Homo sapiens: one gene and its partners. The protein of the gene in region 1 purifies or fractionates together with the protein of each later gene. This does not show direct contact. Each region holds a gene or a part of one and is shown in the gene's direction. Other genes may lie near its edges.

The links.
Region 2: the proteins of ZNF550 (region 1) and STRN4 purify together in Homo sapiens (affinity purification with mass spectrometry; 2 studies listed by BioGRID and IntAct, with this or other methods). This does not show direct contact.
Region 3: the proteins of ZNF550 (region 1) and SLMAP purify together in Homo sapiens (affinity purification with mass spectrometry; 2 studies listed by BioGRID and IntAct, with this or other methods). This does not show direct contact.
Region 4: the proteins of ZNF550 (region 1) and STRN purify together in Homo sapiens (affinity purification with mass spectrometry; 2 studies listed by BioGRID and IntAct, with this or other methods). This does not show direct contact.
Region 5: the proteins of ZNF550 (region 1) and STRIP1 purify together in Homo sapiens (affinity purification with mass spectrometry; 2 studies listed by BioGRID and IntAct, with this or other methods). This does not show direct contact.
Region 6: the proteins of ZNF550 (region 1) and MRPS9 purify together in Homo sapiens (affinity purification with mass spectrometry; 2 studies listed by BioGRID and IntAct, with this or other methods). This does not show direct contact.
Region 7: the proteins of ZNF550 (region 1) and SMARCAD1 purify together in Homo sapiens (affinity purification with mass spectrometry; 2 studies listed by BioGRID and IntAct, with this or other methods). This does not show direct contact.

What each region holds. Positions count from the first base shown.
Region 1 is NC_000019.10:57,552,623-57,557,104, reverse strand, and holds part of ZNF550 (zinc finger protein 550), read left to right. Parts: intron 1-747; coding exon 748-874; intron 875-4,382; coding exon 4,383-4,478; intron 4,479-4,482. UniProt on the Homo sapiens protein: May be involved in transcriptional regulation.
Region 2 is NC_000019.10:46,739,853-46,744,334, reverse strand, and holds part of STRN4 (striatin-4), read left to right. Parts: intron 1-4,482. UniProt on the Homo sapiens protein: Calmodulin-binding scaffolding protein which is the center of the striatin-interacting phosphatase and kinase (STRIPAK) complexes.
Region 3 is NC_000003.12:57,905,646-57,910,127, forward strand, and holds part of SLMAP (sarcolemmal membrane-associated protein), read left to right. Parts: exon of another isoform or gene 1-97; intron 98-321; exon of another isoform or gene 322-402; intron 403-2,238; coding exon 2,239-2,361; intron 2,362-3,409; coding exon of another isoform or gene 3,410-3,430; coding exon 3,431-3,505; intron 3,506-4,482. UniProt on the Homo sapiens protein: Associates with the striatin-interacting phosphatase and kinase (STRIPAK) core complex, forming the extended (SIKE1:SLMAP)STRIPAK complex.
Region 4 is NC_000002.12:36,840,795-36,845,276, reverse strand, and holds part of STRN (striatin), read left to right. Parts: 3' UTR 1-4,482. UniProt on the Homo sapiens protein: Calmodulin-binding scaffolding protein which is the center of the striatin-interacting phosphatase and kinase (STRIPAK) complexes.
Region 5 is NC_000001.11:110,043,978-110,048,459, forward strand, and holds part of STRIP1 (striatin-interacting protein 1), read left to right. Parts: intron 1-341; coding exon of another isoform or gene 342-360; exon of another isoform or gene 361-710; intron 711-862; coding exon 863-928; intron 929-1,037; coding exon 1,038-1,101; intron 1,102-2,702; coding exon 2,703-2,774; intron 2,775-3,564; coding exon 3,565-3,639; intron 3,640-3,794; coding exon 3,795-3,892; intron 3,893-4,482. UniProt on the Homo sapiens protein: Plays a role in the regulation of cell morphology and cytoskeletal organization. Required in the cortical actin filament dynamics and cell shape. Part of the striatin-interacting phosphatase and kinase (STRIPAK) complexes.
Region 6 is NC_000002.12:105,093,190-105,097,671, forward strand, and holds part of MRPS9 (small ribosomal subunit protein uS9m), read left to right. Parts: intron 1-340; coding exon 341-449; intron 450-3,862; exon of another isoform or gene 3,863-3,965; coding exon 3,966-4,135; exon of another isoform or gene 4,136-4,209; intron 4,210-4,482.
Region 7 is NC_000004.12:94,213,602-94,218,083, forward strand, and holds part of SMARCAD1 (SWI/SNF-related matrix-associated actin-dependent regulator of chromatin subfamily A containing DEAD/H box 1), read left to right. Parts: intron 1-136; exon of another isoform or gene 137-169; intron 170-4,482. UniProt on the Homo sapiens protein: DNA helicase that possesses intrinsic ATP-dependent nucleosome-remodeling activity and is both required for DNA repair and heterochromatin organization.

The sequences.
Region 1 (4,482 bases):
AGGTCTTTCCCTTCCCACGAGGCCACATCTCAGGCTGTCTCAGTGGGGGGAAACCTTGGACAATACCCAGGCTTTCTCGGGCAGAGGTCCCTGTGGCCTTCCGCAGTGCATTGTGTCCCTGGGTACCCGAGACGGGAGAATGGCGATGACTTTTACCAAGCATACTGCCTGCAAACACATGTTTACCAAGGCACATCCTGCACAGCCCTAACTCCATTAAACCTTGAGTCAATACAGCACATGTTTCTGTGAGCACAGGGTTGGGGCTAGGGTTACAGATTAACAGCATCTCAAGGCAGAAGAATTTTTCTTAGTACAGATCAAAATGGAGTTTCTTATGTCTTCCTTTTTCTACATAGACACAGTAACGGTCTGATCTATTTTTCTTTCCCCCACACTTAGCTGCTGCTGTTGCTGTTATTGTGGTTGGATTAGTATCAGTCATTTTCCTCCATTCTTTTAATATGCCAGAGTACTTACTCTCTGCTTCCCATAGTCCTCGTGGGATTGCCATTGTTTGTGTCATCTTCAACAGCTTCCCCATAGAAGGCTTTTCTCTCAGGCACAATTGCATTGTCAAAAGGCAGTATCTGCCTCCCCTTTGAGCCCTGCACGGAAGTCAGCCCAAAGGAGACCTAGTTGATTCAGACCTGGATCTCTCTGCACATTGACTAGAGACTGAGTGACAGGTTCTGATCCTATGCGACAACACAAGGCCAATAGCATTACTTCTGTTTGACTTTCCAGATGTTGGTGACCTTCAAGGATGTGGCTGTGACCTTTACCCGGGAGGAGTGGAGACAGCTGGACCTGGCCCAGAGGACCCTGTACCGAGAGGTGATGCTGGAGACCTGTGGGCTTCTGGTTTCACTAGGTAATGACTCACCTCTCATCCCTGAGGAGGACCCTAACCCTGATTCTTGGCCAGGCAAAAAGGTCACTGGAACTGCCCACCTTTCTCTTGACAGACCTTTCTGTTCCCACCTCTTCCTGACTGGTCTCCCTTTGTCTGCATCAGAGATTGTCGGGGTAGAAAATGTCCTTTTAACACAAACCCTCACTCCAGTGCTCAGCCCATTCTGAGGTCCTTAATCAAGATTGCATAAGAAGGAAGCTGATTGGCCATCCTGGTGGGGTCAGCTGTGGCCACAGCCCTATTAAGCAGGGGCCATGGGTGATGGGCTGTTCTTAGAGAAAGGGGTGAGTCAGGCAGCCCCCCAGAAGACATTTGTCCTCAGTGCCCCTCGGATATCTTCCTAAGCAATACAATCTCTGTAAAAAGGCATCTGGGTGCCTGCATGGTCATTAGTTGTTTTCTGATGCTTGATATCCATGCTCTGTTGATCCAGGAGGTGTTTTTAGAGGGTACACAGGAATGTCCTCAAATGGCATGGTTTGATACCCTGATAAAGCCATTCCTTTTACTTTCTCTGTCCAGCACGCTAATTCTTGTCATAAAAGTCTCATCAGCTGGGTGTGGTGGCTCACGCCTGTAATCCCAGCACTTTGGGAGGCCGAGGCGGGTGGATCACGAGGTCAGGAGTTCAATACCAACCTGGCCAAGATGGTGAAACCCCGTCTGTACTAAAAATACAAAAATTAGCTGGGCGCAGTGGTGCGCGCCTGTAATCCCAGCTACTCAGGAGTTTGAAGCAGGAGAATCGCTTGAACCTGGGAGGCGGAGGTTGCAGTGAGCCAACATTGCGCCAGTGCATTCTAGCCTGGGTGACTGAGCAAGACTCCGGCTCAAAAAAAAAGAAAAGTCTCAGATCAGCGCTGAGTCTTTCATTTTCCTTTCACTCCCCCAGTGCAGTTCATTTCTTTTTTTTAACAGAGGGGACAACCTCCAACTTAGCCCTAAGAAACATACAAGGGTTTCCTGGGACTTAGTGGCATTGTTTTGATTTTGTTGTGTTGTGATTGCAGACTTCTATTTGTAGGAAGGGAAATTGACTTTCTCACTTACCAGAGCAAAACAAGGTTCCCTTTTAGAATACAATATTTAACAAAAGTGGGTCAGGATAAAGAAGTTATTAGAATTGATGGCACACTCTGAGTTCAGTTGGGAAGGTGGACATCAATCCATAGATGACAACTGAAATAAGTTCTAGAAAGAAAAATGAGGGGAATTTAGGAATAAATAAGCAGGATGTCATAACCTATTGTGGGAGTTCCAAAGAGGGCATCTCAGGAAGTGACAGTGGAGCTGAGACCTGAAAGCTGAGTAGGAGTTAGCTGGATAGAAGGAGGTGGAAGAGGGTAACAGTGTTCCAGGTGGAGGAACCAGCGTGTGAAAAGTGACAGGGAGCTCAGCTCTTGGGAGAGCCAAAGGATCATCTGATTCACCTTTCCCACAGCCCTGTCCCAGAACTCAAAGCCAGGCATGTAGCACACATTGGTGGACCTTACTGTGACATGTCTGAAGGAATCCTGGGCTATGGTTCAGAATCTGCCAGTCGATGTTTCTGTGGATCCTTGTACCTCAGTCATTGGTCTTCTATACAGAATCCTCCTGTCTTTTACTCACCACATCTAGTGGAAAGCATTTGGCTGCATATAACAGAAAACCAGATCAAACTGGCTTCACCTGGAAGGAAATTCACTAACTCGCCTGATGAGAAGCCTGAGGTGTGGTTGGCTCCAGGCTTGTTCGGTGCCGCAGCCCAGTGACGCCATCAAGGATGTCTTGGTTCTCTGTTCCTTCTTCTTGGTTCAGGCTTCTGATTGTCCTCAGGCTGGCTCCTCATAGGGATGCTGGGTGCTGCAGCCTTGACTGGGGCAGCAGGCCCCCATGTTCAATCCATCCTCCCACCTTGGAATAAATGCTTTCTTTTCACAATGAGAATCCAGCTTTGGTCACCTGCCTAATGAAGACTCTTGCATTACCAATTTATTTCAACCACTGGTTTTTCTTTTCCTTTTTTTTTGAGATGGAGTCTTGCTCTGTCATTCAGGCTGAAGTGCAGTGCCATGATCTCAGCTCACTGCAGCCTCTGCTTCCTAGGCTCAAGCAATCCTCCCAACCTCATCCCCTTGAGTAGCTAGGACCATAGGTGCACACCACCATACCTGGCTAATTTTTTATATTTTTGGTAGAGACGGGGTTTCACCATGTTGGCCAGGCTGGTTTAGAACTCCTGGCCTCAAGTGATCCTCCTGCCTCGGCCTCCTATAGTGCTGGGATTACAGCATGAGCCACCATGTCCAGCCTCAGCCAGTGGTTTGCAGCCCCATCTGGGCACCAGAATTTTGGGGGGCACATTTTGGAAGTACTGATGCCCAGGTCTCACACGAAGAAATTTTGTTTCATTTGGTTTGAGGTTGGAATCACGCATCCCCAAGTGGTTCTGAAAGCACGAGGTGTTTGAGAAGCAATGATTTAGATTTGTTAGAAAATGCCTCCTGGGGCCGGGTGCAGTAGCACCTTGGGAGACTGAGGCAGGAGGATCACTTGAGGCCAGGCACTCGAGACCAGCCTGACCAATATTGTGAATCCCAGTCTCTATTAAAAATACAAAAACTAGCCAGGCATGGTTTTGCATGCCTGTAATCCCTGCTACTCGGGTGGCTGAGGCACGAGAATCCCTTGAACCTGGGAGGCAGAGGTTGCAGTGAGCCGAGCACTGCACTCCAGCCTGGGCAACAGAGTGAGACTCTGTTTCAAAAAAAGAAAGAAAGAAAGAAAGAAAATGCCTTCTGGAGGAAGCAGCACACCTTTGCCGTGTCCCATGGCTGTCAAAGTGTTGTGTGCCTGAACAACGTTGGCTTCCATAGACGGAGGTCATGGGCAGTGGGTGTTGTGTAGACAGATAGCACTACCCTCCATGGCAGTTGTAGCCCAACAGTGGGATTTGTGCCTGTCTTTTATCTCCTTGGCTGCCATAATAAAATGTCATGGATTGGGTGGTTTAAACAACGAGAGTTTATTTTCTTATGCTTCTGGAGGCTGAGAAGTCCAAGATCAAGGTGTCGGCAAATTTGATTCCTATTGAGACCTCTCTTCCTGGCTTGCAGATGGCTGACTTGCTGTGTTCTTACAAGGTGGAGGGACAGAGGAGAGATCTCTCTCTGTTTTTATGAGGCCATAATTTTATCAGATTAAGGCTCCACCCTTGTGGCCTCATTTAATTTTAATTACCTTCTAAAGATCCTGTCTCCATATACAGTCACGTTGGGTGTTAGGGCATCAACATATGATTTTTATGGGGAACACAGCTCACTCAGAGCAATGCCCTTGATTTTCAGGGCTCACATCAGCATTTTGCTTACTTTGGGAGCAGCTGCATTCATGTCTGGACCCTGTCATGAAGTCCTAGGCAAGATGGAGAGACTTTCATTTTCTCATTAAATTACCCCTATTCTATTTCTTTTGCTATCAACAGGGCATCGGGTTCCCAAACCAGAGTTGGTCCACCTGCTAGAGCATGGGCAGGAGCTGTGGATAGTGAAGAGAGGCCTCTCACATGCTACCTGTGCAGGTAA
Region 2 (4,482 bases), about 11 Mb from region 1:
TGGTGGCTGAGGCTTGGGGCTGGGATGGGAGCAGAATCCTTATGTAACTGCTCTCACTTCTGTCCCACTCTCTACTTCCGAAGCTCTTTCCCAGCATACATCTCATCAGATCTTCACAATGCCCTGTGATGTAGGCAGAGGCAGTGTCATTACCTCACTCAGCAATAACGGTACCAGCTGCAATTTAGTGAGCACATACCATGTCTGGGGCGCTGTATCAAGTACTGTAGATACGAGCTGTCATTTAATTCTTGCAGCATTCTGGGAGGATAAAGGATATTCCCCCTACCTTTAAAAAAAATCAGGAGAGGAAATGGAGGTTTTGAGAGGGTGATTTATCTAGGATCCCAGCAGATGAGCAGAAGGGCTGGTCTGTGGTGGACCTTTTGTTTATTTATTTATTTATTTATTTATTTTTATTTTTATTTTTTTGAGACAGAGTCTCACTCTGTCACCCAGGGTGGAGTGCAGTGGCATGATCTTGGCTCATTGCAACCACTGCCTCCCAGGTTCAAGCGATTCTCCTGCCTCAGCCTCGCAAGTAGCTGGGATTACAGGTGTGCACCACCACCACGCCTGGCTGATTTTTGTATTTTTAGTAGAGATGGGGTTTTGCCACGTTGGTCAGGCTGGTTTCGAACTCCTGGCCTCAAGAGATCCACCTGCCTCGGCCTCCCAAAGTGCTGGGATTACAGGCATAAGCCACCATGCCCGACCGTCGGTAGACTTTTAAGCCCATGTTCTGTACCTCTCTGCTACCCAGTACAGTTGAGAAAATTGGTTCAGGCAAGCATAGTGGCCTCCCCAGGGTCACCCAAGCAGTCATAGCAGAGCTTGGACTGAATCTTGGCCTCTGGGACTTTGCACCAGTGCACCGCACAGCACCCACCACACCATCTTCTCATCCTGGAGGCTGATGAGAGAAAAGATGTTTATCCCCTCACTTACTGACCCTTCTTGGAGTTTGAGAGGAACTTGTGTCTGGCATGGTACCAGCACTGTCACTTTGTACTTTTGTTTTCTTTTATTCTGTTAAGTTAGTAAAAATTCAGACATCTCAGAGGGGTGTGTGTGTGTGTGTGAGTGTGTGTATACACATATATATGTAAGTGAAAAAGGAAAGTTCCTTCTCTTCGTCCCTTTCCTGCTCTTCTCTCCTGAGAGAGAAGAGTTATTGTGCTTATGTAATAGATGAACTACTGCTGTATGTATCATTTTGTGACATAATAATCTGTTTTGGTTTTCCTTTCATATCAGCACAGAGAACTCTTTCTTTTTGATAGCTGCATAGCGTCCCACGGGATGTTTGCACCATAGCTGATTGAGTTTGACCCTGGTTGGTGGACTTTTAGATTTTTTCTAGTTTTTCCCCCATCAGACATGGCTGCAGTGAGAACCCCTTATTCCTGTGCAAGAATGAAGCAGAACAGATGAGTGGAATAGTAGAATGGATGTGTTTATGAAACAGTGATTGGGCTGGGCGCGGTGGCTCGCGCCTGTAATCCCAGCACTTTGAGAGGCCAAGGCAGGTGGATCACAAGGTCTGGAGTTCAAGACCAGCGTGGCCGATATGGTGAAACCCCACCTCTACTAAAAATACAGAAATTAGTCGGGCGTGGTGGTGGGCGCCTGTAGTCCCAGCTACTCGGGAGGCTGAGGCAGGAGAATCGCTTGTACCCGGGAAGCAGAAGTTGCAGTGAGCCGAGATCACACCACTGCACTCCAGCCTTGGTGACAGAGCGAGATGCCATCTCAAAAAAAATAAAAATAAAAAAAGAAACAGTGAATGACTCTGCCACATTGACCCACCAGTTTACTCTCCCATCAGCGGCACCTCTTTTACACACCTTTACTTGAACACTTAGTGCTAACAGACGGTGTGACTTCCCCTGTGAGATCCCTTAAGAGCTAGGCAGTGTCAGATTTTCCTGATGGACTCTGAATAACTTTTCTCTGAAGAGCTTAATACAGCTGCTCCTAGCAGAAGACCTGCCGTGCGACCCTGCTTGGTACCTGTGTGTTGAATGGCAGAGAAGGCAGCCCCCAGGGAGGTCCTGCCAGTAGTCACCATAAGTTTGGAGCAGGAAGGTGGCGGAGCTGCAGTCTGATAATGAGCAGGCATTTGCTAGGTGGGGGATTCTGAGAAGTAAGTAACGTGGTTTCTGCCCATCCGAAACTTCCAGGCTGGCAGAGGAAGCTTGTTTGTGCAGGGGACCGCAGAGCTGTAGATGTTCATGCACAGTTGATTGTGTGGCTCTGCCCCTGTTCTGTGGCAACTCTGAGAGGGGAAGCTTTTTGAGGATGGGAGGGACCTTTTAATGAGGGATCTGAACTGGAGATTTGTATAGGAGCAGCGACAGGGACCTGCAGTGAGTGCGGTGCCAGCAGAGAATGTGCGGAGCTGCCCCTGCCCACTTCAGCTTCCTGGGGGCCCATTCCTGCCAGCAGCTGCTGAAGCTTGGGAAGGAGGCCCTTAGGAGATGCAGGGCTAGATGGCACGAAACGGGGACTCTTCCCAGCTAGCTGGGACAGGAAGCAGCGAATTCAGAGAGGCATCAGCTCCTGGGAGGACTGAATTGCTGGGACTCCTCCGAAGCCTTTAGATGTCGCCTTGCTGGGAATAGCTGGAGGGGCGGAGAGGCAGTAGCTGCCAGGTATCAGAAGGTTTTGGGAGCGCATGCTCTGCGGCTCTGGCTAGAGGGAGTGGCAGTGGGTGGATATGGTGAGCGGCACTTCCAGATCCCCGACCGACCCTCAGGCCTACCTTGGCCCTCGCAGACCAGACAGCCCGTGGGGGCTGCTGGCGTTTGCAGCGAGGGAGAGACTGGCCACTGACGCTTCCCGTTTTTGGTGGGTTTCCACCTCCCTGAGATGCTCCAACCATGTCTTTCTGGTTCTCTTTCCAGAGGCACTGGGAAAGGGACAGCAAAGCAGAGTGGGCAGCTGAGACCCTCACATCCTCATTAGGAGGAGGGAGACCACAGCTCGATGAGGCAGCAGAGGGATGAAGGGGGAACCCAGCCAGTGACAGGTCTGGTTGGGATGCCCAACTCCACCTCCTGCCCCCACAGATAGACCACTACTGTGTCCACTGCCCCGGCCTAGTCCAAGCCACTACCGTTCTGTCCTGGGATTTCTGGGACTGCCCTCATCTGTGATGGGGGTCTCTGTGTCCAGCTCTGCCGCTCTCCTGCTCCCTCCCTCTAGTCTCCCTCCAGAACTCCCTCCAGTCAGTTCTCCATGTTTTAGCTGGAGCTGCCTTTATAACATGCGAATCGGTTACCTCTCTGTACTTAAAACCCTTCCATGGCTTCACTGAGCCTTTTACAGGTTCTGAAGCAGCCATCCTGGCCTTTTTTAGAGTTCCTTAAGCCCACCATGCAGCTCTTGTCTCCGTCCTCTGCCAGCAGGGCCCTTCCCTCCCCTGGCTAACTTCTCTTCAGCTTCAGGCCTTAGCTGAATTGTCGCCTCTTGTCCCTCTTCCCATAGCGTCCTTCGCTCCCGCAATGGGGTCCTAGTCACATTGCATGTGAGTTGCTGCTCATGCCTGTCTCCTGCATGGGACTGAGCCCTGTGGGTGCAGGAACCACATGGCTCCTCTGTTATTCCCCAGCGCCTTACTGGGGCACCTGATGTGTGTGGGCAGTCACCAAACAGTGGCAGGTATTGACCAAGGTGTAGGTTCCCGGCAGGCTGAACTGCCCCTGGGAGGTTGAGGGATCAATCACCAAACCCCAGGAGGGAAGGGAGGAGAGTGAGGAGGAAAGTCAGGACTTGTCTTCGGTGGTCGGTCTGCCTCTCCTCACACCTTCTCCAGTGATTCAGAGAGTAGATTTGGGGGACTGAGAAGATACACAAAGGACAGAAACTCATGCTTCAGAGATGCTGATGTCATATAAGTAGTTTCCCTGTCTGGCCTTGGATGTTTATATACATATGTGTTGGTAAAAAGTGTTAAAAAGGAAAAAAATTTCCCATTCTTGAAGCGGACAGATGAGTTTTCTTTTCTATAAGGTAACTGGTGACATGTATTTCTTTTTTTTTTTGAGACGAAGTCTGGCTCTGTCGCCCAGGCTGGAGTGCAGTGGCACGATCTTGGCCCACTGCAATCTCCACTTCCCAGGTTCAAGCGATTCTCCTGCCTCAGCCTCCCGAGTAGCTGGGACTACAGGTGTGTACCACCATGCCTGGCTAAGTTTTTTGTATTTTTAGTAGAGATGGGGTTTCACCATGTTGGCCAGGCTGGTCTTGAACTCCTGACCTCAAGTCATCTGCCCACCTCAGCCTCCCAAAGGGCTGGGATTACAGGCGTGAGCCACTGTGCCTGGCCAATCCACAGACATTTCTAGTTGATCTGGGGTCTCCAAGGGATCCTACCTCCCGTAAGGAACTGGGCCCATTTCGAAGTTGCGAACAATGGACAGGGAGAATAAAAATGATGAAAGAAGTAGAAGCTGGCATTTGTTAGCCTTTATTCTGTGC
Region 3 (4,482 bases), on another chromosome or scaffold:
TGGCTTCATTTATCTGCAACGTATTTATTTGAGCCTTTTTAGAATACACAGAAAGTTGTTTCAGAATTAATAGCCAGTGCTTTTGTAGAAAAGAAACCTGTGTATAAAATTTTTTTTGATTATCAAATTATTAACATACAGCAATAGTCCTCAACACAGGACATTTTACCTCCCAGGGGACATTTGGCAATATCTGACCAGGAAAACTACCAAACATCCTACAATTCATAGGGTAGCCCCACAGCAAAGAATTTATTCAGCCCAAAATGTCAGTAGTGCTGAGGTTGAAAAACTCGATCACAGAGCAAGGAAAATACCTACTCAAGGAATTAATGTCGATGTTTTTGTCAAACCACTTGAATGTAAGATGCAAGCATCATGATGCTTCTCTTCTAAATACTCCTTAAAAAAAAAAAAAAAAAAAAAGAGCATTATCCTATATAATGACAAATCCAGAAACAGGGGCCAGGACCTTTGCAGACTCCAGTGGATAGTGTTGAAAGAGCTGTGAGAGAAGTTTTGTAGCTAATGCAACAGTGTTTCTGCCACTGGAAAAATCTCTCTCTCTACATGCCCCTTCCCTGGCCCAAAGACCTTTTGAAGGAAGAATTGATAAGTTGACTAGAGTAGCTGAACCCAGAATCAAATTTTTTTCTTTTTTTTTCTTTTTTTTTTTTTTTTTTTTTTAGAGACACAGTCACTCTCTGTCGCCCAGGCTGGAGTGCAGTGGCGCGATCTTGGCTCATTGCCACCTCTGCCTCCCAGGTTCAAGCAATTCTCGTGCCTCAGCCTCCTGAGTAGCTGGGATTACAGGCGCGCACCACCACGCCCAGCTAATTTTTAGTATTTTTAGTAGAGACGGGGTTTCCACATGTTGCCCAGGCTGGTCTCAAACTCCTGACCTCAAGTGATCTGCCTGCCTCAGCCTCCCAGAGTGCTAGGATTACAGGCATGAACCACCGCGCCTAGGCCAGAATACAATTTTTCTAGAGAGAAAAATAGGATATAATCTATGAATATGAAAAAAAAATATATATATATATATATATATATATAATTTCCAAAACCTATTGTAATTGTATTGTGAAAGTTATTCTTAGCTCTTTTTTGATGAATTGAAGTTATTATGCTGAGGTACTTATAAACCAAGGTGATACTCAAATAGAATTCATTAGAACAATATGGCTTACCTGATGATATATTTATTTCAGGCAGTGTTCAGTAGCAGAAGGTTTTAAAAAATTAAAAAGCAGAATGATTGGAGAGGAAGGAGTTTAGGGGAAGGGGCATATTTGAAATAGAATGCTGGATTTAATTTATTTCGGTAAAACCACTTAGGTTACATCATTTAATATATTCAGCAGATTTTTGTTGTTGTTGCGGTTTTTTTTTTTCTTTTTGATACAGAGTCTCACTCTGTTGCCCAGGCTGGAGCGCAGTGGCGCGATCTCGGCTCACTGCAACGTCTGCCTCTTGTGTTCAAGCAGTTCTCCTGCCTCAGCCTCCCAAGTAGCTGGGACTACTGGCACCTGCCACCACGCCTGGCTAATTTTTTGTGTTTTTAGTAGAGACGGGGTTTCACCGTATTAGCCAGGATGGTCTCGATCTCCTGACCTCGTGATCCGCCTGCCTCAGCCTCCCAAAGTGCTGGGATTACAGGCATGAGCCACCACGCCCAGCTCAGATATTTGTTATATGTGCGTGTTGGGGAAATGATGATGACAAAGTAGGCTCAGTAGAGCTTTCAGCCTAGTTTTTATTTTGTGTTCCACAACTAGGGTAATTGTGCTAAAATTTAGCTGTTACTTGAAGAAAAGTTTCTTTTTGTTTTCCATATCCAGTTAAGTTCCAAGTGAAATTTTTCTGACTGGTTATCAAGAAATTTCAAAATTGATGAAGAAGTATAGCATTTTGCTCATCTCACTGAATTTCAAGTCTTAATAAGCAATGAGTTATAATCTGTCACTGTCTGTTTATTTTGATGCTAGAATTGTGAATATATAATTTATGTTAATATATTTTTATAATGTCATCACCATGATTACTAATATATATAACTGTATTTGTATTTTCTCCCAACTACTAAAATGCTTACTATAATTTGCTTCTAAGTTTTATTTAACTCAGTTGTTCTATGTTGTTTATGCATGTGCAAACATGAGAGAGATTACCAGTCTTTTATTGTAGATTATAGTGTGATACTAACTCTTGCTTTTAAAATAAACATGTTTTTGTCAGATGACTTGCAGGGTGCACAGTCAGAAATTGAGGCAAAGCAAGAAATACAGCATCTTCGAAAGGAATTGATCGAAGCCCAGGAGCTAGCTAGAACAAGTAAACAAAAATGCTTTGAACTTCAAGGTGAGATCAAGATTACTTTGGTTCTTTAGGGATGTGTGGAGGCAGCACAATATAATTGGGTGGCCCCAAACTTGGAGTCCGGAGGCATGTTCCAGATTCACAACTTTATGAGATATGTGATCTTGGTATATTTACTTGACCTCTCTAAACTTGTGTTTCAGGTCAGTAAAATGAGGAGAGTTACAGTTGCTCTACCTTCACACTGTTGATGTGAAAATCAAGTAAGATCTTTACTAACTGAAAGATCTTAATAGTTAATTGCATATTAAGTACAACAGAAGGAAAACTCAAATTTCTAAATTTTTATTATGCCTAATGTTAGCTAATGTCCTGGCCACATTCTTTTCTAGTAGCTCACTTATCTATAGGTCATAAGCCAGTGGAGTCTGTGCAGTTCCCTAGAGCTTACATTTCTGTATCATTCATAGTAACTACCTGGTTGCAGACAATTAGTATCTCAAAGAGTCTTAAAATGAGAAAGGGAATGACTTCTGGAGCCCTCATGTTCTCCAAGATGGCCTTCCTGCCTAGTAGGAAGATTTACATCCCAGGAGGGAACTAGGAACTTCTTGTTACTACTTCTTTCCTTTCCTAATTCTCAAAGAAATTAGAATTGGTATTCACTTAACTTGAACCTTTTGGAGGATCCAGGCTAATATATTAAATTACAATGAAAAAATATTTGGTAAATAGCAATTATTTAGTTTAGTGTTTACTATGTGCTTGACAGTAAATATAAGAATTTTAAGTCTTTTTAAAAAATTAAGTTCAAAATGCTGATTAACAATTATCAAGACTGTTTCTCATGTTAAGAAAAGCACATATTGTCTTGGTGATACCAGGTCCAGAAAACTCCACTACTCAGTTGAATAGATTTATTACTTACTACAGTTCTGTGCTCCTAAAATCTTTAAACTAACTGCTAATACTGATAATACTTACTGCCTAACTTTTGTTTCTTTCAATAATCTTTTAGGAGAGAATTTTAAAAGAAATTTTCAGCTGCTCAACTCTGAGTACTTTCATTAATTCACAAAACTATTAATAGATACTGTGTTTTTACTTTTAGCTCTTTTGGAAGAAGAAAGAAAAGCCTATCGAAATCAAGTTGAGGAATCCACTAAACAAATACAGGTTCTTCAAGGTATGGAAGACCCCAAGGCTCTTTGAGATTGTTATTGTGTGTTTGTTTTTAGTGATTCAAAAGGAATGGAGGCCAGGCGCAGTGGCTCATGCCTGCAATCCCAGCATTTGGGAGGCCGAGAAGGGTGGATCTCCTGAGGTCAGGAATTCGAGAGCAGTGTGGCCAACATGGTGAACCCCTGTCTCCACTAAAAATACAAAAATTAGCTGGGCATGGTGGTGCATGCCTGTAATCCCAGCTTCTCGGGAGGCTGAGGCAGGAGAATTGCTTGAACCTGGGAGGTGGAGGTTTCAGTGAGCTGGGATTGCACCACTGCACTCCAGCCTGGGTGACAGAGCAAGACTCCATCTCAGAAAAAAAAAAAAAAATGAAATGGAAAGTAAGAAGGCAGAGAGTCCCCATTTTTCATGGCTTTGATTCTCTAGAACCTCACATTTCAACACGGCTCTTGGTGGAGCTTTATTTATTTATTTGTTTTTGAGACAGAGTTTCGCTCTTGTTGCCCAGGCTGGAGTACAATGGCGCGGTCTCACCTTACTGCAACCTCCGCCTCCCAGGTTCAAGCAATTCTCCTGCCTCAGCCTCCTGAGTAGCTGGGATTACAGGCATGCGCCACCACACCCAGCTAATTTTGTATTTTTAGTAGAGATGGGGTTTCTCCATGTTGGTCAGGCTGATCTCAAACTCCCAACCTCAGGTGATCCACCAATCTTGGCCTCCCAAAGTGCTGGGATTACAGGTGTGAGCCACTGCGCCTGGCCTATTTTTTTTTTTTTTTTAAAGAAAATTCAAGGGAAGATTGTCCAGTACTCTCGTATTAGACACTTAGAATGGAAAAAGCAGAGGTGAAGATTTGGAGTTGGTAAGACTGTCACTTTCTGAGTTATGTCGTGAGTTCCTACAGAGGGCCTTTGGATAGGAAATCTGTTTGAGCTACTCTGCGTCAGCACTTTGAGCTTGCTGGTATATGTATATAT
Region 4 (4,482 bases), on another chromosome or scaffold:
ATTAATTTTGTTTTTCTTTGAAAGAATTGCTTAAAATTAACCATCAATGTTTTTAGCGAGTGGAGATAATGAATCTTTGGTTGGTGTCTGTCTGTGTGATGTTTTCAACCAATAGCCAAATAATTATTGAACTTACATGAAAAAGAGTGCTAAGTATAATTTTATTTAGATTACTTTATTCTTTGAAAGTGACTACAAGGCTATTAAGTACATAATCATTCATTTTATTTACTCAGAAGTTGCCTCTCCATTACTGTTAACTTGTTTAGTAATTTATATAATTGCAGTACTTTTAAGTGTTGGACACTGGGATTCAGGTTGTATACAAAGTAGTAGCTGACGAAAAATATGTATATTTTTGTGAAATGTATCAAGCCCTAAAGTTCATTTTAGAGAAAGGCCCAGAAAAACGTATCTGTGTTTAAAAACAAAGGACAGGTCATTCGTCAATTTGAATCATTTTTACTTTTGCCACTACAAACTTTTTAATTGGCAATATCCATCATCCAACTGGATCTTCATGTCAGTGTCAGGGATGCCAGGTTGACAAAGTATTTAACAGATCCTTTCAGTTTTTGTTTTGTTTTTTTAATTCTAAAAAAAACAAATGTTAGGCCAAACAGATCCCTAGATCCCACTCATTGATTCTGGCGGTATTCCTAAAGTGGTGCTTAGGGGGTCAGAATTTTCTGGATCTTTGCTAATCCAAGCTTTAGATTTAATTTAACCAGGACCACATGCTTGTCATCTCTCTGATGCAAATTTTCAAAATCATTTTAATTTAGATTCTAATGTCTGCCTGGGTTTTTAACAGGCTGTGAACCAGTGAGTGCCTTGTTAATGTAGAATGATTTTTCCCCCCTGGGTGGGTGTTAGTTAGCTCCTCTCTGAAAATGTCTCAGAGAATGGTATTTTAATTGACTTGTAGAGAGCTGCTAAATTTGTTATTATCAGCAATCAGAAAGTCTTTGGTCTACCACACATCTCCCTCCCTACTATCTCTTCATTGTTTGGCTGAAGTTTGCCTCTTGTGAGAAAACAATACAACTCCCCTTCTCCACACACTTTTTTTCCAGCCCAGATTAATAGGTATCCCCTACCCTAATCCCAACTCTATGATCTAATACCTTTTTTAGGAGGAACCACTTCTTTTTAATATTGAAATCTGCTGGTTACTTTATGTTTTCTCAAGTTCAGTTGACTAGAGCTGACCACAGGGTGTCATCAATTCAGATTCCTAAATAACCCTTTCTCTCCACACCCAGTCCTCCAGCTGGTGAGCCCTGGGCCAGATTGTTTGATCTTCAGGTATTTTAAATTTTAGTTACATCAATTAATGTAAATTAATCCAAATGCTAATTTTTGTGGTGCAAGAAGTTTCTTATGTAAATTCAGGGTATGGATAAGCTAATTAAGATATCCATCTTTGGTGGCTCTAAGTGTATTATTTGTTTTTAAATAAAGTGTACAAATATAGATAACATGCTATAGGTGTCTCATGAATTGGAATATTTGTCAGATTTGGGATCTAGCTGTGGCTTTACAGTAATCAGTTAAATTAACATAGTCTGATTTGGGGCTTTTGGGGGAGGAGTTGTAGAGGGGTGCAGAGAAATAAAAGGATATTAGACAAAGTATACATGAGTCCAAAATTAATGAACCAGTCTTAATTACTGATTGTGAGGAAGGAGAAGTTTATAGAGAATTTGGGCCTCTGAAAAGCCAAATTAAAATAGCTTCTAGGATTGGGTCAGTGGTACTTTCAGAGACACATATGTTTAATGAATAGGTTTTATGTTTTTCAAATGTTCAGTTTAAATGGCTTTTAAAATTTATACACATATATAAATACAATGTTTTTATTTTTTGTTTCGCTACTTAACAGACATACACAAGCCTTCCACACTCCCTGCCCCTTCAAATCAACATTATTTTTCAAGGCCTTTGGCCTGCCCAGAACTCACAGTCTTTTTGTTCCAATCAGGATCCACAATACAATATGAAATTTAAAAGGCATCTCTTCTGATATCCTTGAAACTATCCACCATTGTTTGGTGTTCTGTATGCTGGTATACTAATGAGTATTATATCCTTTGGTATGTACACACATTTTCAGTAGTGTTGGAAACACCTCTTTTATCTTTTTAATGAGAACTGAGACATGATTAGCTTGAGTAATTTTGGAGATCTATCTCAGGAGGTCATTAAAACTCCAAAAATTATTCACGGATTGATGAACCTCCTGGGGTCAGCCTAAGATTGCCAGGTAGTATTCTGACCTCCTCTGGGTTTCCCAAGATCACTGATGTTTTGCAGGGCCCCAGCATTGTCCTGGCACATAAAATATTCCCAGAACACCTTGGGAGTCAAGCATACCTTTTAACCTAAACATTATAATCATGGAGCATCCCTCCGCCTGTTACTTCTCAGGATGACCAGAACACTCCAGTTCTCTAAGGAAGCACTGACATACGGCTCTGAAAATTGGAATCCGTTTTCTGAAACACAAATTTTAACTCAGTAAGTTTTGTATATCAAATGATTCAAAACCCACCAAACATAAAATGACTCGCTTCTAAGTATCACTCAAACCCTACAAAACCTAACCCTTTCCTTATTCCTAATTGATATTTCACTAAAGGTAATGGTAGTTTCAGTTAGATTGGAAGTCATTATTTGGGTGAGCAAAGTCTGCAATAACCTACTGATAGGAAGGACCTATTTCATAGAAAAGTATCTTGTCCTTGGTGATTTAGCCATTCACCTTACGTGAAGAGTGGTCCAGATGCCAGCTCCACATTGACTTTTTCTGTGTCCCTCTTTAGGTAATTAACCCAGTGATGTAAAGGAGAGCCCACAGTAAAACATCTGTTAAACAGCACTTGGAGTACTATAGTGTTATTAATTTATGTGCTATAATTTCTTATGCCATCATAAAATCTAGTGTATGTACCAGGTTCCCAATTCATTGCCTCAAACAAAAGATTTTTAAAAATTCTAATAGCATCAAATTAAGGGTAATGGTAGGGAAACCCATCATCCACAATTAAATATGCCCAAACTGAAAACTTTAAGAAAAAAAAGCACATGGAAAGCAACGTTTTACATTAATCGTGAGTTGTAGAAATAAACAGCTTGTGGTTTGTATATGTGCCGAAATGTTAAAGTATGCTGGCATCCAACTACTTCCCTTTGGAAATGGGACCAAGACAATAATTTTTCATGCATAAACAAAATTAACTTAGAGCAAAAGTAATTTTATCAGAAACAGTTTATTTTGGGGGCTGGATAACTTGGGTGAGAGTGTGGGGAAAGAAGTACCTTACCAAAAAGGAGAAGCAACTGACCCTGTGGCCTGAGCCACATTGTCTTCCATTTCAACTTCAATGGGCTGGCAGTATACCACTTCTGACCTCAAAGAATGAATGGTTCCAATTCTGGCTTGTCATTGGTCCTTGTTATCTAAATTAAATATTTTTAGGAAATATATCAAAAGTATCCTAGAGCCCCATGGCAAAGTGTCAGAGGAAATAGTTTTCATTATATTTTAGGAAGCTGTAAAAATATAAGCCCAAGTATTTTGTGTCATCTGCATATGTCAGGATGAAGACCAGGCATGTAAGAAATATCCTAAAGTAGCCAAGTGATAATCTCATGAAAAAATATGAGAATCGTTTTTACAGAGTGAGTTCTCTTTTGAATGGTTTTGACTATGCTTTTAAAAACATTTTTAAAATGTACTTACATCTTTTTCGATAGCCCACGTATTTCAGAATATCCTCTTGATAGAATAATATCACTCAGTGTGATTTTTAGAAAAAGAAAAACTCGGTGGTCTCATATCTTTTGACAGTTGTTTGTGAATAATACCCTCCCCAACAACCTTCCCAGTACTCAACTGCTATGTAAGAATGCTTTCTTATGTGGTAAATGTCTCAGTATTTTGCTGCCTGGTATTTGTTCAGTTTCCTTGTATATCTCAGGGTCAGAAGGAATCAGGCTTTCTCCCAACTCTGAAACATTCAGACTTACTTTCTTTTTGGTCAGCCTTTTAACAAGCAAGACAATAAACTCCTTTTGTCAGAATCGATTTGATTAAAAAAAAAAAAAAAGAATGTGCTCCTTATTTCTCATTGCTGTAGAATACGTAGGAATACACATCTACTAATCACAATTAAAAAATAAGAGAATCTTTAGAAACATCATTGCTTTCTGGAGGTAGAAATTTTGAACTTGAAGGTTGTAGTTCCAGGCAATTTTGTGCCCTTGAGGTGTCCAATTGATAGTATAGCTTGCCTCTGCTAATAAATACACAAAAGTTTTCTTTCCTGTGATTTTCAGAAATTATTTTTGGAATACAAAGATTAATAAGGAATATGTGATGTTTATCTCCTGCATTTCAAAATCTTCTGGATTTTTTTTGAGGCATGAGGAGCAGGTAATGAGATTTTTTTTCTGAATATCTTGATTCTCTCCCTTAAC
Region 5 (4,482 bases), on another chromosome or scaffold:
GGGATGAGGCTCTCTTAAAGCACCCTGTGCTGTCCTGAGGGTCTCAGGGAGGCCGGCCTTGCTGGTCTCACACAACATGGCCCTCATGTGGCTACTGAGGCAGTAATTGGAGTTAGCTCTTGGTTAGATGTGCTAGTGAAGGGGGATAGGAAACAAATAAAAACAAAAGCATTTAAGCAAACATGTCTCCACCCATCCTGGGGTTGTGTATGGTTTTTAACAAAAATGATAGATTAAGGAAGAGTTTCTTTAGAGCCATAATGAAAATGTTTGAGATATATGTGGGTAAATCGATGGATGGGACGGTACCTGGAGATATATAAATGGTGTCTGTTTGATAGGCAGCAGCTTAAGAAATAGATGAACATGTGAGAGGATATAGAAGTCGCTTTCTTGATCCAGGTAAAGCCTCAGTTTTCAGTGATCTGTGAAGGGAATGCAAAACAGATCATCAGAAAATGCAAGGTATGCTGATTGTTTGGGATAGGAAAAGTGAGCTATATGAAAAATCAGTAGCCTATAGCTTTAATTGTTTAAAAGTTTTAATATTTAAGAAAGTCTGTTGACAAACTTGTTCATACTATCTGAATAAAGCATGTTTTTAAGTTTGATATATCCCTTTAATTTTATGAATAAACTAGTTAACATGTATTTCCAGGTTACTGATCCAGCAAAATTATAAGAAACATTAAAATTCTCTGAAAATTTCAGTTTTTTCCCTTTTTTCAAAGAGAAAAACAATTATAGGAGACTTCTCCTGGCTTCACAGTTTCTGGATGCTGTGTTTTTGTTAACTGTAACACTTTGAAATAGCATTTGCTAAAAACCTTTTTTCTTTCTCTCTTTTTTGGTGATGTGGCAGAGAGAAAGACATTGAGATGTTCCTTGAGTCCAGCCGCAGCAAATTTATAGGTTACACTCTAGGCAGGTGAGTAAAAGCCGAGTTCATTTTGCTGTTAGCTCTCCCGGCCTTTGGTGTTTGGGATCCCAGGTGATTTGATGTCGAGGCTCAACACAGGGCCTTCTTTATTCTCCAGTGACACGAACACAGTGGTGGGGCTGCCCAGGCCAATCCACGAAAGCATCAAGACTCTGAAACAGGTGAGTGGCTTTGGGTGAGCTTTTGGCTTGTTTGGTCCTAAGTGAGTAGAGTGAAACCAGCCTGTAGGGAGAAGCCTTTTAAGACTGTTGTCTGCCTGCAAGAACCTGGGGTAGAGGCCGGGGTGGACTTTGCAATAACCTTGCAAACAGTCTTTCGTAAGTTTTGCTTGTTTTATTATAAGTTTTACTTGTTTTAGCTGAGCTTTTGTTTGGGACTGACTGGGAAGTCTTTAAAGATTATATTACCTGACCACCGGGCACCAAGGCATGCACCTGTAGTCCCAGCTACTCAAGAGGTTGATGCAGGAGGATTGTTTGAGCACAGGAGATCAAGGCTACAGTGAGCTATGATCATGGTCCTGCACTCTAGCCTGGGCCACAGAGTGAGACCCGGATTCTTTAAAAAAAAAAAAAAAAAAAAAAAGGATTATATTACTTGACAGTTGTTGAAATTCTAAAGAGCTCAATAAATAGCCCTCCTTTTCCTTGCCCACGTTCTCAGGCGGTTGAAATAGAGGAGTAGGCAGATGGAGATTGTAATGCCAACTTTATAGCTCATAGAGCCATGGAGAATGAGGCTTAAGAACACAGCAGTAGTGTCCTAATACGTTGTTCCAGAATTAGGCAGAGTTACCTACCAGTCCCAGGCAGTGTGGGGAGGCTCTGCCAAGCTTGGTGGCGGGGAGGAGAAGAGAGCAGACTCTCAGCAGGCAGACAGGTTCTAAAGAGAAAAGAGAAGGGTGAGGACAAGTCCGCCCTGTGTCCCCTCCCATACTCTCCGATCAGAGAAGGGAGGAGTGAGTGTGTGGACGGGGCAGAGAGAGATGAGGGGTGTTTCGCAAACCCCTGTCCCTCCACACGGGAGAGAACATTAAGAGTGGGGAAGAGGCATCTCCCCTAACAGCTATCTGGAGTGAAACTGTTTTTATGTTTTTGAAATATATTTTTGGAATTTGTAGTACTAAGTGGTCTCTCTGCAGCTAGGCTTTTTGAGTACTTGATTTTGCTTTCAGTTTTTCTCCTGTTGCTGTAGCTATCTGAAAGGCCATTTCCCTCCTTTAATTTACTTTTTTCTTATCTACCATGGGCTTCTTACTGTAGTTGCAAGAGGAAGGGGCCCTTTTAGAAAAATATTTTGGGGCCAGGCATGGTGGCTCACGCCTATAATCCCAGCACTTTGAGAGGCCAAGGTGGGTGGATCACCTAAGGTCAGGAGTTCAAGACCAGCCTCACCAACATGGCAAAATCCCATCTCTACTAAAAATACAAAAATTAGCCAGGTGTGGTGGTGCACACCTGTAGTCCCAGCTACTTGGGAGGCTGGAGCAGGAAAATTGCTTGAACCTGGGAGGCGGAGGTGGCAGTGAGCCAAGATCATGCCACTGCACTCCAGTCTGGGCAACAGAGGAAGACTTCATCTCAAAAAAATAAAAATAAAAAATATCTGGGGTTTGGGATTTTAGCTAGGGATTTTTGTGGTGACTTAATCCTCTTTCAGAAGACTGTGTTTGAAGACAAATGTGTGGGGATTTTGCTAGAGTGCAGGGAGTTTGGCCAGAGAATGTTTTCCCCAGCCCTTCTTTTCCCATCTCTCCCACCAGCACAAGTACACGTCGATTGCAGAGGTCCAGGCACAGATGGAGGAGGAATACCTCCGCTCCCCTCTCTCAGGGGTAAGTTGGAGGTCCTCAGTCCGGGCGCGGTGGCTCACGCCTGTAATCCCAGCACTTTGGGAGGCCGAGGAGGGCAGATCATGAGGTCAGGAGATTGAGACCATCCTGGCTAACATGGTGAAACCCCGTCTCTACTAAAAAAAAAAAAATTAGCCAGCCGTGGTGGCGGGCGCCTGTAGTCCCAGCTATTCAGGAGGCTGAGGCAGAAGAATGACGTGAACCCGGGAGGCGGAGCTTGTAGTGAGCCGAGATAGCGCCACTGCACTCCAGCCTGGGCGACAGAGCGAGACCATCTCAAAAAAAAAAGTTAGAGGTCCTCTTCAGCCCCCGGGATCCCCAGCTCTTCCCAGGCATTGTGCTGGGATTAGACCACAAGGTTGCCCCAGGCCCTGCCCTCAAAGAGCTCCCAGTCCACCTCCCAGTGCACAGGCTGAGACACGTCTAGTGCAGGGTTAAGAATACAGACTGAGTCAGGAACCTGCCTCTGATGCCTGGGTCCACCACTTTATGGATGGCAACTTAGGCAAGTTACTGGGTCTCTCTATGCTTTATTTCCTTGTCTGTGAAATAGGAATAATAATACCTTTATAGGGTTATAATAATAAGGATGAACTGAGTTATTACAAGTAAAATGCTTGGCACATTGTTTGTGTTCAGGGTTTGCTGTTATCATCATTAACATCATTATGTACATCACTGTTTACAGGTTTTCCTCCAGCCAGCTAGGAAGCTGGCTCAGGAGATTGTATTCTGGGCTGGGGTTTTATGCTTGTACTCATTATGTTAAAAGGGAGAAGAAGAAGTTGAGCAAGTCCCTGCAGAAACCCTCTACCAAGGCTTGCTCCCCAGCCTGCCTCAGTATATGGTGAGTGGTGCCTGCAGTGGGACACTCCCACTACACTGGCCTTAGAGCAGGCCCTGCCGTCCTCCTGCCACCTGCAGACCAACAGGAGGACTGCTCAGAGCTTAATTTTGACCCTGGGCTCTCAGACCTGTGTCTGAATGGTCTACTCTTCCCAGATTGCCCTCCTGAAGATCCTGTTGGCTGCAGCACCCACCTCAAAAGCCAAAACAGACTCAATCAACATCCTAGCGGACGTCTTGCCTGAGGAGATGCCGTGAGTATCATTCTGTGAATGAAGCAGGTGGGGCAGAAGATAGATGGAGAAGGGCAAACATTTTCCTCTTGTCAGGTTGGTTGTTGTTGGCCCAGCTCTACAGGTTAAATGTAGGTATTTTTGACCCAAAAAAAGGAAACTACGAGATTAAAGAGTTTCACTGGTTGGGGAGATGGCTTGGTCCTGTTGGCCTGGATTCTAGTGTAGACTCTACCACTGAGCAAACTCCTGAGTGAATTGGGGAAAGTCATTTCCTCCTCTGTAAAATGAATGGGGCCACCCTGGACATTTCCCCAAAGCCCCACTCTCCAGCTGTGATTGAGACACCCAGGATGAGGAGGGTTAGTTTGTAGACAGCTTGCCAGCAACAGCTGAACCTGTGCCAGGTATAGAGACATCCCTTTTCGCCAGTGATTGGGCACGCAGAATGCTGGCAAATGTCTCAGGGCGATAGAGTGAGATTCTTCAGAGCTCTTCTGCCCTGTGCCCTGTACTTGTCTTTCATGTGAGAGTCCAGATTGAGATCATGTTCTACTTTGAGAAGGACCTGGACCTTGACCTGATCTTCTGCCTGCCTGGGCCACCAGCCC
Region 6 (4,482 bases), on another chromosome or scaffold:
TTACTGTTTATAAAAGAAGAATGCTATGTAAATTGGTTGTGGATTCTCGTAAGGGAAATGAATATAAATTACTTTGTTGGTTGTTCAAACTAATTTAAAATCATTGTAGTGTTTCTAAAATGGAATTGAAGAACAAAATTACCCCACAATGAGCTTTATTGCATCTGTTGTGCTGTAGTTTACCTGCTTTATTTTTGTTTGACTTGAAATAATAGTTATAGGACTTGCTTATGTACAGTGTTGTGTATTATTTTGGGGAAACAAATTTTAATGTAGTTTTACCTGTCTCAAAGCGCAGGTCTTCAAGATATTTACTAATAGGAATTTTATATTTTTGAAGGTAAAAGAAAGACTGCAAAAGCAGAAGCAATTGTTTATAAACATGGAAGTGGAAGAATAAAAGTAAATGGAATTGATTACCAGCTTTACTTCCCGATCACACAGGACAGGTTCGTTTTGGGTTCTGATTTTTTGTTTTTAAAGGAAACATACTTTATAATACATCATGATCATTTAAGAAGGCTTGTGATCTTCTAATTCTGTTTATCTGAATGATTATTTCTCTTTACCAATGTAACATATCAAACTAGCTAATTGAAGCTATTTTTTAAAGCAGCTTCCAGATTTTTTAAAAAGCATCTCTAGAATTCCTCATTAATTGACTCTTCTTCCCCTTTTCATCAGATCCTACTGCAGTTTGAGTAGTCTTAGATGTAGCTTATGTTCTGAAGTGCAGACTGTGCCAAAATGTAAAAAATTTTGATTTAGATTTCCACCTTCTAGTTTGGGGATGGGCGTGCACAAAACAAAACCACCACCACAACAACCAGCCTTGGCACTTAAAACTGACCTAACTCACAAGGCAAAGAAAAGTGCAAGTAATTTCTTGTGGCTTGTGTATGTTTTTCTGATCATAAATATTAGAAAAATTCTGCTTTATCATTTTGGATTTTTTCCTATTCAGAGGAATGTGATTATATATATTGAGCAAGCAAAGAAACCTAGCATTTATGGGTTAAAATAAGAACTCATCAGGCTTTGCTTAGTTCTGGGTGCTAAATATGGCAGTTTTAATTTTTAAACTTTGTATCCTATGGAGAAATAGACATTAATCATAAATAGATACTACAGCTCTTCTAATCTAAATATACTCATCTCAGAACTCTCTCTGACTTGCTATATAAAGGCCTCTTCTTGATATGGTTATTATTTTCCCAGTACTTACTGTCATTATCCACGAGTAACAGAAGTTTGGTATGATTAGTTCCTCCTTTCCTAATCCTTCTCCTGTTTCCTGCATGTGTTACGGTATTTAAGGTCAAAAGGGCTAAAACTCTTTTGATACCAATGCTGATATAGGCAAAAGAGGACCCTCCTAATACAGTGTAAGCTTCTGGACACAATAATTATTTTAGGAAATGTGTGTTTATTTTATTTGTGTGTGCCTGTGTCAACAAGCAGTGCATTCTTAACTCCATTTAAGATGAATTAGTTCTGCTATTATCCTCACAGGACAGGGGATGGAAGAAGCTTTTATTTCCCTTAGGAAAAGCCAGAGAGAAACCCATACCCCAGGGTTTGATAACTTCAACATTGGGAACTATAGGAGGACTGTTCTTTAACCAATAACCTGTCTGTTGATTTGTATTCAGACATAACTCCTGATGATTTAACAGCAAGTCTCAATTCTGGCTTGATCTCATAATGAAATTACATCTTTAGATCTTATTCTTTGGTTTGAATTCAGCAGCTTTTTACTAAGGACATCTATGTCTCCAGTCTTGTTCTGGGCATTGTGAAGATATCAGAGATATTTAAGATATGATTCCTATTGTCAAGAAACTTCCTACATGGTTGGGAAGCCTAAGCCTAGTCTTGGTGGGAATGGGCACCTACAACTATTTTAAAGTAGTTGTAAGGATTTAGGGCAGTCACTTCAGGAACTTACAAATCAGCAGTGAGGTGACCATTGACTAATAGGAAGACTAACCAACCCAGAATCAGGGATCTTGATCGGAATTCTGTCATCACCTAACACACAGTGAAGTGGGTTAGCCACGTAAGTGAAGTTACAAGGGAGGCTTCTGGACAGCCATTTGTTTGGGAGCTTAAACACTTTCCTGGCTTAATTTTTAAAATTTTATGATTCTTTAACAAATGCTTATATAAATAAAAAGAGACTTCAATTAAAATCTAGAAAAATAGATTTCATAATGTAATTACTGGATATATAACTGAGTCATGGAGCCAGATGGTCGAGGTAAATGCAATAGTGGAATTAGATTTTCAGTCTGTACATTTTTTTTTTCTTTTTTTTTTTTTTTTGAGATGGAGTTTCGCTCTTGTTGCCCAGGCTGGAGTACAGTGGTGCAATCTTGGCTCACCACAACCTCCGCCTCCTGGGTTCAAGCAATTCTCCTGCCTCAGCCTCCTGAGTAGCTGGGATTACAGGCATGCACCACCATGCCTGGCTAGTTTTGTATTTTTAGTAGAGACGGCGTTTCTCCATGTTGGTCAGACTGGTCTCAAACTCCCGACCTCAGGTGATCTGCCCGCCTCGGCCTCCCAAAGTGCTGGGATTACAGGCATGAGCCACTGCGCCCAGCCTAAATTTTCTTTTATATTTACTTTTTTTTTTTAAGAGACAAGGTCTCTTTATGTCACCCAGGCTGGACTCAAACTTCTGGACCCAGACTGGACTCAAGCTGCTGGGCTCAAGCAGTCCTCCCACCTCAGCCTCCTGAGTAGCTTGTACTTTAGGTGCTCAGCTTAAATTTTCTTTAGTTATCATAGTATATTAATAGATACTACTTATAATACTGTTTTTATAACTTATGGCTACTTTTCATTTGGTTTCTTGGAAGCATTTGTTCAAAAAGACAGTATAGATTTATGAGTTTTTTGTTGTTGTAGGAGTTATGTCATCCCTACATCGTATTGTTATAAATTCCGATTTGCTATGGCTTTTGAAAGTCATCTTTTGCCCATCTGCTTGTGATTATTTTACTAGTGTGGTATGAAGAATAGCACTTGAATGTCCTGTCCATACCTGTCTCTCAGCTTAACTGTGTTATATAAACTTGATTTTGGGTCTAGAAGCTACAGCATCAAAGAAAGCAAACGCAATATAAGTGAGCTTTTCTGCATAAAAGTGTAGCAAGATATTAAGGCAAAATAGCAAAATCAAAGTGCTTGACAGAGGTAATGGTGAACATCTTACCTGGCGTGAAAATGATATTCAACAAATACTTGTTCAGTTGAGCAGGAGAAAGTCCAGGGCCGTGTTTTGTCTGTGGTGCCTGCCCCAGGATCTTGTAGGCCCTGACCGACCCTGAAAGAGCAGGCCTGACAGGGGTTGTGTAGAATGTCACCTGGCCCCAGGAAGGTAGCAGGACCCTATGATTTAGAGAACTTTAAGAATATTGGGAATAGGTGTTTGGTGTCAGGGAAGTGCAAGGTCGAAAATAGTTTTAGAAACTTTAAAAACTAACCATATCAAGATGAGCATTATACATTATACAGATACACTTATAGTAGACTTTATTTAGTGAATCCAAATGACATGTGATAATTGTTTGGAAAGGCCTATTGATTTTATATCTGATCATTCAATCCAGAGACATTAAATTCAGTTGATTAATGGAGTTCCCCAACTGTAAGACTTCTTTACGAGATTATTTTCAAGCTTTGAAAAGATCTTCTGAGATAAAGGGGATCAGCAAACAGTAAGAGTGTGTTGCTATACCCAAGCAAAAGAAATAAATCTTAATCTCTCAGCAAATCATTCAAAATGTCAGAAATGTTAGTGTTTCTATATCTTGGTAAAATGGATTGATTGAGAAGTATGAAAAGTATAACAGTGGCATGCAGAATATTGTTTTTATGAATATTCAGAATTTCAGTTGTTTACATAATTATGTATCTTTATAGTAAACGTAACCACATTTACTTGTGCTGTGCTTTAGAGAACAGCTGATGTTCCCTTTCCACTTTGTTGACCGGCTGGGAAAGCACGACGTGACCTGCACAGTCTCAGGGGGCGGGAGGTCAGCGCAGGCTGGAGCAATACGACTGGCAATGGCAAAAGCCTTGTGCAGCTTTGTCACCGAGGACGAGGTCGAGTGGATGAGACAAGGTATGAGTCTAGGTGGGACGGGCATGGTGGCCCAATACTGGCTATACATGTTCATCTGCTTCTTGTCCTAGTGCCTGAAGTTCGTAAGAAAATATATAGTTACATATGTAATATTTCACTTCGCTGTCTTCTTTCTTGCTACAGAACCATAACAGTATTTCTCAGATTTGATTTCTACAAGGTGAGCTTGAATTAGAAAAAGGGGAGAACTCCCCACACTGATTATTTGAGCCCTGCTAAAATGTTCAGTTCCAAGGTCAGGGAAAAGTTAATTTTGGCCTTAATGCATAACCTTTTATCCAGCTTAACAAAGTGCTTAGCTTAGTTATATTTAAGAGACAAATTGC
Region 7 (4,482 bases), on another chromosome or scaffold:
AATGTAGGGAAATGACTGTAGAGATGACAGAGGAGGCAACTGAGGGGAGTTGTAAATGATACGCATTTGATGATATTAGGTGATCAGTTGAATGTGGAGGATTTACAGATAACTCAAATGTTCCTTGCTTGGACAGCTGGAGGATTGACACCATGGACTGAATTAAGAGGTGAGTTTAGGAGAAAGATACTAAAAATTATGTTGTGTTTGCATTACCCATCCTATTTTAGTACCAAGGTAGTAGATGGTTGAATATTAGAGCTCAGAGAGTGGTCTAAACCCTAGAACTTGGGACTCATCAATGTCCTAAGCAGGGTGTACAATAAAAAACATCATTTGACAATGGGCAGGAAAACCAATGAAAAATTTGAAGGATGACTAGAATAGTCATAGAAAATGATAGTGTCCTGGATACCTAAATACCTAGTTTGGTATTTAGTTGTCTAGTAACAAATCCTGTAGAGAAGTCAAGTTGAGTGGGGACTGATCAGTGACCAGTTTCCTTGGAATTAAAAGTAACTACTAACCTTTAACAGTTTCAGTAGAATGGTGATGAGATAGAGATTATTCATTCAGGAAAGGAAAGAGAGAAATAGGTAACCTGATTGGGAAGTAATGTCAAGAAAATATGTTTCAGGATTATTGAAAATTGAGCGTTCTTTTGTTTTTTTTTTTTTTTTTGAGACAGTTTCACTCTGTCACCCAGGCTGGAGTGCAGTGGCGCAATCTCAACTCACTGCAATCTCTGCTCTCGGGTTCATGCCATTCTTCTGCTTCAGCCTCCTGAGTAGCTGGGACTACAGGTGCCCGCCACCACGCCGGGCTAATTTTTTTTTTTTGTATTTTTAGTAGAGACCCGGTTTCACCGTATTAGCCAGGATGGTCTCAATCTCCTGACTTGAGATCTGCCCGCCTCGGCCTCCTAAAGTGCTGGGATTACAGGCATGAGCCACCGCACCTGGCCAAGCGTTTGTTAACCAAGGACAAGAAGCTAGTGGAGAGGGAAGGACTGAGGGAGGGAGGTATCTGAAGAGAGGCATCAAGTGATGAGAACTGAAGAACAGTTGGACTGTTTAACTGTGCAAAAGAATAAAGACATATTTTCCCTGGGGGGGATAATTGAAGGAGATAAAAATAGATGGGTTCATAGATTATTTTGGCATTGGCGGAATGGAGGAAAGTTTTAGTATATGTTTGATGAATTTTTTTTTTTTTGCTGAAATAGATTTAGTCCTCTAGAGTGGTTGCCTTTTCAAGGTGGTTGTCATATTGAAAGTAGCACTTGTTGATAAGTGAGAGACATTTTTAAAACTATACCAGTCGTCAGAAAGATTTCCTGAGAGTATTGCTCTGCCACATACAGATTGTATGATCTTGAGTAAAAAGTCAACTGTTTGGGTCTTACAGTCTTCTCCTGGCTTTGCTTAGTTTTCTGTATTCCTTGCCCACATTAAAATGGTTATTATCCTTTGAATGATGATACTGAATGTATCATTTTAGCTTCATAATTCCGTGACCATTGCGCAATACTCAGTCTTTTTGTAGGTGTCTGTGGCCAAAATGTGAGCCATCGTTAAACCTGTAGATAGTCATTGTGGTTTCTTAATGTCTGTTAATGTTAATTGAAAAGCAATACTTAGTTAAAGGGTTAGTGCTGAATTGTTGTAACAGAAAGTACAATAAGTACTCAAAAGTAAGTAGGAATCTTAAGTGCATTTTAAATGTGCATGTATTTGGCTGGGCACAGTGGCTCATGCCTGTAGAGTCGCAGCACTTTGGGAGGCCGAGGCAGGAGGATTGCTTGAGACCAGGAGTTCAAGACCAGCTTGGGCAATGTAGTGAGACCCTGTCTCTACAAAAAATGAAAAAATTAGTCAGGTGTGGTGGTGTGCACCTGTAGTCCTAGCCACTTGGGAGGTTGAGACAGAAGAATTGATTGAGCCCAGGAGTTTGAGGTTATGGTAAGCTGTGATCACTACACTACATTCCAGCCTGGGCAACAGAGTGAGATTCTGTCCCAAAAAGGGGGGTGGGGGGGAGGAGGGGGATAGAAATATTATTTTAGTCATTGTCACTTCACCCTACACACAAATTTCACTAGTTTGTATCAGACTACATCTTGGTTTTGATGTCTGCTTTTTCATACCTGTCTAAAATATTGCAGACCTTTATTATCTTTAATAAGCTAATAGGCAAAAGTATGTTATTGTTGCTTTTTCTTTATTTTTTAGTTTAAGTATGTTTTCATAAATTTACTAGCCATTTGGATTTTTTGTGTTTCTTTATGCTTTTCTGTTTTTCTAATACATGTCTCTCCGATAAATTATTTGTAAGTATATCTTAAATTCCACGTGTCTTAGTCTGTTAGAACTGCTGTAACTACCATGAACCGGGTAGCTTATAAGCAATAGAAATCTACTCTTGGCAATTCTGGAGGCTGGGAAGTCCAAAATCAAGGTGCTGCAAGATTAGGTATCTCAGGGCCCTATTCCTAGACCACAATCTTTTAACCCCATGTGGCTGAATGAGTGAGGGGTCTCTTGGGCCTCTTTTATAAGGGCACTAATCCCATTCATGAGTGCTCTGCCCCCATCACCTAATACCCCTTCCTCCCTCCAGCAAATGTCACCTCCTAATACCATTACCATAATGGTTAAGATTTCAACATACCGTTTTGGGGAGTGGGGCACAAACAGACCATAGCACCCCCTTTGTTGTTTGCCATAGAAAAATTTTAGATTTTTATGTGGTCACCTTGTTCATCCTTTCCTCTAAGTCTTCTGCATTCCGCATTACCACACTATAAATATACTCATTCATATTTTCCTCTAGTATGTCTGTTAATTTTAAAAATTATGATAAAATACACATAAGAAAATTTACCATCTCAACCATTTTTAAGTGTACAGTTCAGTACATTCAGTTCAATACATATACATTGTCATGCAACTATTCTCCAGCACTCTTTTCATCTTGTGAAACTGAAACTCTTTATGCATTGAACAACTACTCCTCATTTCTGATTCCCCCAGCCCCCGGCAACTACCGTTTACGTTGTCTTTTTATGAATTTGACTATTCTAAGTATCTCATTAAAGTGGAATCATCACTTAGCATAACATCCCCAGGATCCATCCATGTTGTAGCATATATCAGAATTTCCTTCCTTTTTAAGACTGAATAATATTTCACTGTGTGTATATACACATTTTGTTTATCCATTCATCCATCAATGGGCACTTGGATTGCCTCCACATCTTGGCTGTTTGAATTGTATTGCAGTAAACATGAATGTGTAAATATTCTCTTTGAAACCCTGCTTTCAGTTCTTTTGGTTGTATACCCAGAAGTGGTATTGCTGGATCATATAGTAATTCTATTTTTAATTTTTTGCGGAACCTCCATACCGTTTTCCATAGGTGCTCCACCATTTTACATTTCTGCCAACAGTGTGGTGGGTTCCAGTTTCTCCACATCCTCTCCAACCTTGTTATTTCCTGTGTTTTTGATAATAGCCAACATAATGGACATGAGTTTGTATCTCACTTTGGGTTTCGTGTTGATTTTTAACTTTAAATCTCCTCTGAATTTTATTTCATTATAGGGACTAAAGAAAGGGTGATATCGTTTTCTCCTTTGTTCATTATTCACCAGTTACTAGTCAGTTTTTCATTTATTGAAAAATCCTTTTTCTTACATTAAAATGTCATCATTATAGTCTAAAATTCCCATGTTTGTTTGCATCTTTGGGTCTGTTAATCTGTTCCTCTAATCTTAATTTACCAGATTATTTTAATTTTTATAGTGTCATATATATGATGTATCCTAGATTTTGATGTGTTTTTGTTGTTGTTGTTTTCTCTTTGACCTGAAAGTTGTTTAGAAGCCATTTTTATGAGGTTTTGTCTCTTTTTAAAAAATTTCCAACTGGCAGAAATTTTGCTTGCATATTTTTGTTAACATTTACTTCTAATTTCACTGTTTTGTGACCAGAGAATGTGGTCTGTAGTATTTCTTCTTTGGGGGAAATTAACTCAGATTTTCTTTGTGGCCTAATATTTAATTTCTGTAAAAATTCAAGGGTGCTTGGAAAGAAAACATAATCTAAGTACAGATTTAATTATATGTCGAATAATAGATGAGTTTTATTATATCTTTGTTTTTCAAACTGGATCATAAACATTTATTGTGTCATAAAATCAATTTCTTGGGTCCTGACTAAATATGTATAACTACAATTTTTAATGGAGTAGAACAAATAGAAAATTATCAAAGTGTATTGCTTATAGTAAGAGCTGCTCACATTTTCTTTCAGTTACACTTGCAAATCTAACAATCTGTGTGCTTAGTATCATAATCTGAAATATGTCTCTCACAGTGGGTTTCAGTCAAAAATGTTTGAAAAACACTGTTCTACATCTTGTTTATTTTTGTGCTCTTGCTTTATTAAGAGCATAGAGAAAAGTTAATGCTTCATATTTGT